Homo sapiens: one gene and its partner. The protein of the gene in region 2 purifies or fractionates together with the protein of the main gene of each other region. This does not show direct contact. Each region holds a gene or a part of one and is shown on either strand. Other genes may lie near its edges.

Evidence for each region. The genes of interacting proteins can lie anywhere in the genome.
Region 1: the proteins of TFE3 (region 2) and PFAS purify together in Homo sapiens (affinity purification with mass spectrometry; one large-scale study listed by BioGRID and IntAct). This does not show direct contact.

What each region holds. Positions count from the first base shown.
Region 1 is NC_000017.11:8,262,789-8,266,288, reverse strand, and holds part of PFAS (phosphoribosylformylglycinamidine synthase), read right to left. Parts: intron 3,370-3,500; coding exon 3,296-3,369; intron 3,181-3,295; coding exon 3,024-3,180; intron 2,715-3,023; coding exon 2,653-2,714; intron 2,515-2,652; coding exon 2,353-2,514; intron 2,078-2,352; coding exon 1,952-2,077; intron 1,820-1,951; coding exon 1,688-1,819; intron 1,395-1,687; coding exon 1,164-1,394; intron 1,002-1,163; coding exon 821-1,001; intron 734-820; coding exon 650-733; intron 428-649; coding exon 272-427; intron 56-271; coding exon 1-55. UniProt on the Homo sapiens protein: Phosphoribosylformylglycinamidine synthase involved in the purines biosynthetic pathway. Catalyzes the ATP-dependent conversion of formylglycinamide ribonucleotide (FGAR) and glutamine to yield formylglycinamidine ribonucleotide (FGAM) and glutamate.
Region 2 is NC_000023.11:49,033,358-49,036,857, reverse strand, and holds part of TFE3 (transcription factor E3), read left to right. Parts: intron 1-83; exon of another isoform or gene 84-2,395; intron 2,396-2,606; coding exon 2,607-2,724; intron 2,725-3,075; coding exon 3,076-3,132; intron 3,133-3,317; coding exon 3,318-3,393; intron 3,394-3,500. UniProt on the Homo sapiens protein: Transcription factor that acts as a master regulator of lysosomal biogenesis and immune response.

The DNA.
Region 1 (3,500 bases), on a different chromosome or scaffold from region 2:
AGGCATGTGACGAGGCCTCCGTCACTGACATCGTGGCCTGAGCAGAGGAGGCGGTCTGGAGGAAGGAGAAGAAAGCTCAGCAACCTCGGGACCCAAACCTGACAGCCCCACCCCACCTTCCGGAGTCAGTCCATCAAGAGTGTGTGTCAGAATGTCAGGGGATCTGGGGTACATCGTCCATTGGAGTCCCTTTTGCCCCACTGCTCAGATGGTGAACGCCTGCTGCACGCCTGGCACCCTGTGCGCTATCTCCCCAGGGGTCTTCACTCACCTTTCAGCAGCCCCTGAGTGATGCTGAAGGCCCGCACCAAGTTCTCAGGAAGGTCCAGGTCTGGAGGGTGTTCCCCAAGCTGGGAGAAGCACTGGGCCAGAGCTGTGCCCCCGAGCCGGTGCTGCCCAGGGCTCAGAGCCACATAGAGCAGATGGCCTGGGGAGACGGGGAGGGGTGAGGGGAGGGGAACAGCTCAGGAGGACCCATCCCTGAGGGGCTCACAGCACTGCTATTCCCAGCATGTGGTGAGACACCTAGACAATCAGTCCCAGAAAACACCACAGCCCAGTGTTGAGATGGGGGCCCAGCACTCACAAAGCAGGAGCCAAACAAAGATCACACAAGCAAAGATCACAAAGGATGGGGCCATGTCCATACCTCTCCCTTCAGGATGCTTGAGGTCTGGGGTCACAGTGGCTGTGATGTCTGGGCAGACGGCATAGGCTGAGATGACCAGTGACCCTGTAGAGCAAGGAGGAGTCCAAAGGAATGAGTTGCCAACCCAGCTCCATAGTTCCTCCTCCCCTCCCTGGGGCTCCCACACCTCACCAGGAGCCCGCACGGTCTCAGTGCCAACCCGAGCAGCCATGCTGAGGGAGTCCTTGCCACCATCCACTGCCACACCCAGGGCTGCCATCACTGCCACCATAGCCTCACAGGCATCCGCCAAAGCTGCGCCCTCCCCTGGGAGCTTGGCTGCCCACATCCAGTTCCCGCTACACTTCACATCCTGGGGGTGGCAGAGGCACAGCATTAGAGGGGAAGAGAAATGTGGAGAGGCCAGGGGTGCAGGCGGACTGGGAGGTTGCAACATGAAATGAAGGGCTACAGATGGATGTGGAAGGGTCCTGAAGCCCGGGGGCTCCAGGATAGAAGCTGTGGGAGAACTCACCCGGAGGTCAGTGACCAGAGCAAACACCAGGTTGGTGAGGGCTTCGGCCACGGCCAGCCGGGCGGCGACTTTTGGGTCCAGCAGGCTCTTGACTGGCTGTTCTCCCAAGGCTGTGGCAGCCCCTATGAGCTCCTCATGGCTCAGTGCCACAACCGCTACATCTGCCAGAGGAGTTTGCAGGGGCCCCACGCACTGCTGCTGGGCCACCAGGCCTCCCACAGAGCGGTCCACCTGTGGAACCAGGTGGGGTTAGCAAGAGAGCAAGGGACAGGGACAGCCTGAGCTCCCGCACATGCCCCCAAGGCACTCAGGGCAGTGGGAGGCCTGTCTTTCCCCCAATGCAGACAACAGCTCTACTTAGAAGGTGGGTAGCAGGGAGACCAGGCCATCAGGGTGGCTGCCCTGCCCCTGCTGCTTCCTGCAGGGCCAGGCAAAAACCCCCACAGCACTTTCTAAGGGTGGGAGGGCAGAAGAGGCTGAGCGGAGGAAGGAGGCAGGGGGCAGAGGAAGGGTGCAGGGAGGACCTTATTGGTGAGGTAGCGCTTGCTGGCCACGGCGGGCAGCCTCAGAACCCTCTCCAGAGCCTGGTGCACGCTCAGCCCTGGGGGCAAGGCCAGAGGCTGCAGCATGGGGGGCTTCCTCTGCAGGAAGAACTCCTGCAACACAGACAGCGACAGGCAGTGTGAACACCTGGGGCGGGCTGGGCACACAGGCGACAAAGTGCACGTAGGGTAAAGGGTGGTGTGGAGAGGACCACAGGAAAAACCCATCCCCTCAACCCCACATACCTTCCGAGGCATCTTGCCCAGCACCCATTCGAGCTCCAGGTCCACAGGGGTTGGCAGGGGTGTCGGGGGGGCATCCCCCTGGCCATTTCTTCTGACAGGACACTCCCGATCGTCCACCAGCACTATCTATAGACCACAGGGACCCCACCCAGAGGGGATGAGACTATGAACACCAGCAAGGAATGTTCCTAGAAATCAGGGCACAAATGTGCTTTCCACTCCTTGTTTGGTTTCCATATTGAGTCCCTGCCCCTCCTTGGATCCAACATTCCCCACAGCTTGTTTGCCACTACCTCCCATCTTCCTCTCGTCTCTCTCCCTTGACAGCTCTCCCTCTAGCCCATACCCAGGTGGCTCATGTCTGCCCCAGTGTTTGCTCCCAACTCCCTGGGCCAACTCACTCTCCGGTCTCCAGTGATGGTGCCCACGAAGCAAGCCGGGCAACGTTCACGGGCACTGACATGAGTCAGGAAGTCCCGGTTGGGGGACCTCAGCAGAAGAGCATTTGATTCCTGGTACTCAGCCCCCCAGATTTCCAGGGCATTCAGGGTTGGGTCCCCAAGCTGCACAGCCACGGCGGGGAGGAAAGAGAAGGGCCAGTGGGCACTCCCACGTCTCATGTTGTTGCAAGAGAGATGGGTGGAAGCGGGCTGGGGCTGGCAGGGGTGGGAAAATGTCACACTTCAGGGGACGAGACCCACCTGGAAGCGGCTGGTGTAAATGATGGCTCCAGCTGGGTCACTCAGCTCTTTTAGGACATTGCCTGGTGAGAGGGTTGCAAGGAGAAGCAGTGACCTAGTGGTGGTCAGGCAACAAAGGGCAGTCCCTGGCCTCCAAAGGGGCCTGTAATTTGGTGTGTTCCTGTGTCAACTGCTGCCGCACCCTTACCACCAATCATCCCACGGCAGCAGGCTTCCACCCTTCCAACCCTGAACCTGTCTAGAATGTACAGAGCATGGAGAATGGGACCCAGAGCTGGGTGGTTGGTTGGAGATTCCTGATACCTCTCCCTAAACGAAACCTGGCAGGATACCAGGCAGGCCCAGTCTCTTGTTCCAACTCCTTTCCTCACCATTGCCACCAGCGCCCTGATCATGAAGGCTGCAGATGGGGTTTCCCTTGGGGGCCTCCACACAAGCCCTGATCACACGGTTCATCTTCTGTTCCATCTCCGGGTCTCCTCGCTGCACAGCCCCAAAGTCCAGGTCACTGGTGTTATCTCCCTGCACCTGGGGGCATATATGGCATAGCTCAGCTCAGCGAGACTGGAAGCTCCTATACGCTCCCCTATGCCTGGGGCCCGGTTATATCAAGGATTCTGCACCTTTAGCAATTCCCACTCACCTGCACAGATGAAGCAGCTCCACCTCCAACTCCAATCCTGTAGACGGGACCTCCAACCTTTACAACTTCCATGCCTGTAAGAAGGGAAGGCAGAATCAGAACACTGGGGAAGCCACGAGAAGAGGCCTCGAAAGCAAGGCAGCGTGAACACAGAGGAAGCTGATGTTAGGGAGAAGCCTGACCAGCTTTTTTTTTTTTGAGATGG
Region 2 (3,500 bases):
TTGAACACTCCAAGAGTCTCATAACTTGCTTTATTATATTTATTTATTTATTTTTTGAGACAAAGTCTTGCTCTGTCACCCAGGCTGGAGCGCAATGGTGCTATCTCGGCTCACTGGAACCTCCGCCTACCAAGTTCAAGCGATTCTCTTGCCTCAGCCTCCTGAGTAACTGGGACTACAGGCGCGTGCCCCCATGCCCGGCTAATTTTTGTATTTTTAGTAGAGACGGGGTTTCACCGTGTTACCCAGGTTATCTCAATCTCCTGACTTTGTGATCTGCCTGCCTCGGCCTCCCAAAGTGCTGGGATTACAGGCATGAGCCACCATGCCTGGCCTAACTTGCTTTATTTATTTATTTATTTATTTTTTATTGAATTTTTTTTTTTTTTTTGAGATGGAGTTTCACTCTCCTTGTCCAGGCTGGAATGCAATGTGCGATCTCTGCTCATTGCACCCTCTGCCTCCTGGGTTCAAGCAATTCTCCTGCCTCAGCCTCCCAAGTAGCCGAGATTACAGGTGCCCGCCAGCACGCCTGGCTAATTTTTGTATTTTAGTAGAGACGGGGTTTCACTATGTTGGTCAGGCTGGTCTCGAACTCCTGACCTCAGGTGATCCACCTGCCTCGGCCTCCCAAAGTTCTCGGATTACAGGTTTGAGCCACCGCGCCCGGCCTATTTATTTATTTTTGAGACAGGATCTTGCTCTGTCACCCAGGCTGGAGTGCAGTGGTGTAATCCTGGCTCACTGCAGCCTCCACCTTCCGGGCTCAAGTGATCCTCCCACCTCAGCCTCCCAAGTAACTGGGACCATAGGCTTGTGTCACCATGCCTGGCTAATTTTTTGCATTTTTAGTAGAGACAGGGTCTCACTGTGTTGCCCAGGCTGGTCTCGAACTCCTGAGCTCAAGCCATCTGCCCACCTCGGCCTCCCAAAGTGCTGGGATTACAGACATAGCCACCATGCCTGGTCTCATAACTTGCTTTAGAGCATACCAAGTGGCTGTAGTTTTGCTTTTTTCCAACTTATCAATAGGATGGAAGCATGTATAAAAATGGGACTAATTTATCAGAACTTTTTATTGATTTGGACACAACTAGAGAATGGGACCTTATATCCACCAGACTGGAAGTGGGTTCAAGAGATTAAAGCTCAGCCAGGCACGGTGGCTCACACCTGTAATCCCAGCACTTTGGGAGGCTGAGGCGGGCAGATCACAAGGTCAGGAGATCCAGACCATCCTGGCTAACACAGTGAAACCCCGTCTCTACTAAAAATACGAAAAAATTAGCTGGGCGTGGTGGCGGGTGCCTGTAGTCCCAGCTACTCGGGAGGCTGAGGCAGGAGAATGGCGTGAACCCGGGAGGCAGAGCTTGCAGTGAGCCGAGATTGCGCCACTGCCCTCCAGCCTGGGTGACAGAACGATACTCCGTCTCCAAAAAAAAAAAAAAAAAAAAAAAAAGAGATTAAAACTCATGAAGAAGTGGGATTTGGATATACTTTATTTTATTTGTATTTATTTATTTATTTATTTATTTTGAGATAGAGTCTTGCTCTGTTGCCCAGGCTGGAGTGCAGTGGTGTGATCTTGGCTCACTGCAACCTCTACCTCCTGGGTTCAAGCAACTCTCCTGTTTCAGCCTCTCAAGTAGCTGGGACTACAAGTGCAGGCCACCATGCTCGGCTAATTTTTTTTGTTGTTTTGTATTTTTAGTAGAGACAGAGTTTCACCATGTTGGCCAGGCTGGTCACGAACTCCTGACCTCAAGTGATCCGCCCGCCTTGGCCTCCCAAAGTGCTGGGATTACAGGCGTGAGCCACTGCACCTGGCCCTGGGTATACTTAAGATTGACGTGCTCCTCTGGAGTATATCCAGGAAAGTGTGAAGGAGAGGAAAAAAAAAAAACTAGGCTGACATAAAGCAGTGCTAATTGAATAGTTGGATAAGAATCTCCTGAGAGAACAGAATGTGCAGGAAGATACTGGAGTCAGGACCTTGGTCCACAGCAGCAGGAGACCCTGATGTGGAAGATGGTACAACTTGATCAGAGTGGAAGATGGTACAACTTGATCAGAGTGAAAGACTGGAGATTAGGTTGGAATTCTCCAGAAGGCCAGATTTTGGATAGAATGTTGTCATGACAATTTACCAAGGTCGGAGAAGATTGGGTTGGAGTGTTCCAAGAATGCTGGATTGGAATGTTGTGCTGGGAGGAGCTAACGGACTGGAATGTCCCATCAGAGCCGACAAAGACCTGAGAAGGGTGGTTTTCCAGCATTTCTTCTCAGAGCCAGCCCCGGGGTTTGGGAAAGGGGCTTTAGAGGTCACTGAGGGATATGAGGGACTGGAGGAAGTGATAAGCAGGCCAGGCAGGCTCCAGTCTCCCAGCGAAGCAAGGTAGGTCCAGTTTGCTCTGTCCTCCCTGTTTGGTCGCCATGTGAATTTGCCTTGAAGGAGAAGCAAGGGTTCTGGTGCTGAGTCAGCCAGTCCTTGCATTAGAGGGTGCCCCATCTTTGGGATATGTGGAAGCTCAGGAACCTGGTTCTGAGGAGGAGCCAAGCCTGGGGTTTGTTCCCAACTGGTGGTTCTCTGCCCTCTCTGCCCCCAGCTGCCTGTGTCAGGGAATCTGCTTGATGTGTACAGTAGTCAAGGCGTGGCCACACCAGCCATCACTGTCAGCAACTCCTGCCCAGCTGAGCTGCCCAACATCAAACGGGAGATCTCTGGTAGGTGATAGGGTCTTGGCCCCATGGCCCTACACTTTACCCCAGGTGAGCCCTGTGCCTACCAGGTCTAGAGATGGGCCTGATTCTGAGGGGAATGGTTTGGACATATGGAAATGGAGGCTGTTTGTCCCCTTTCCCCCTATGGCTTGTGGTCTTGCTTTCACCCCACTTCAGTTCCTCTCGTCTTGGATTTAACAACCAGCCTATCACCATGGCTTAAAATAGTAAAAAGAAGGCACTTTTTAAAAAAGGCATTTCCCCTGCTTTTGGCTACCAAACCCTACCTTAGTATCTGCATGTGTTTCTTGCCTTCCTGTGCTCAGAGGCCCTGATCACTCCACTCTTTTCCAGAGACCGAGGCAAAGGCCCTTTTGAAGGAACGGCAGAAGAAAGACAATCACAACCTAAGTAAGCCAGAGAGCGTGTGCATTGCCCGGGTGCTGTGCAGGCCTGCCTCACCCCGAGTCCTGGCCCCCCATGGGGAACTCCTTCCCTGCAACAGCCTCCCAACTCCCTACTTTCTGTCTCTTCCATTTTTGGCTAATTGACAACTCTTTCTCCCACTCTTTCTTCCTCTCCTCCCCTCTCCAAAGTTGAGCGTCGCAGGCGATTCAACATTAACGACAGGATCAAGGAACTGGGCACTCTCATCCCTAAGTCCAGTGACCCGTGAGTCTGGGCTGGGACCCTCAGGCCAGCGGGAGGTGGGGCAGGCGTCCCATGCTACTAAAATTGTGCCTTGGTGGGCTCACCAGGCAGTCTCGGCCCAGGCATTT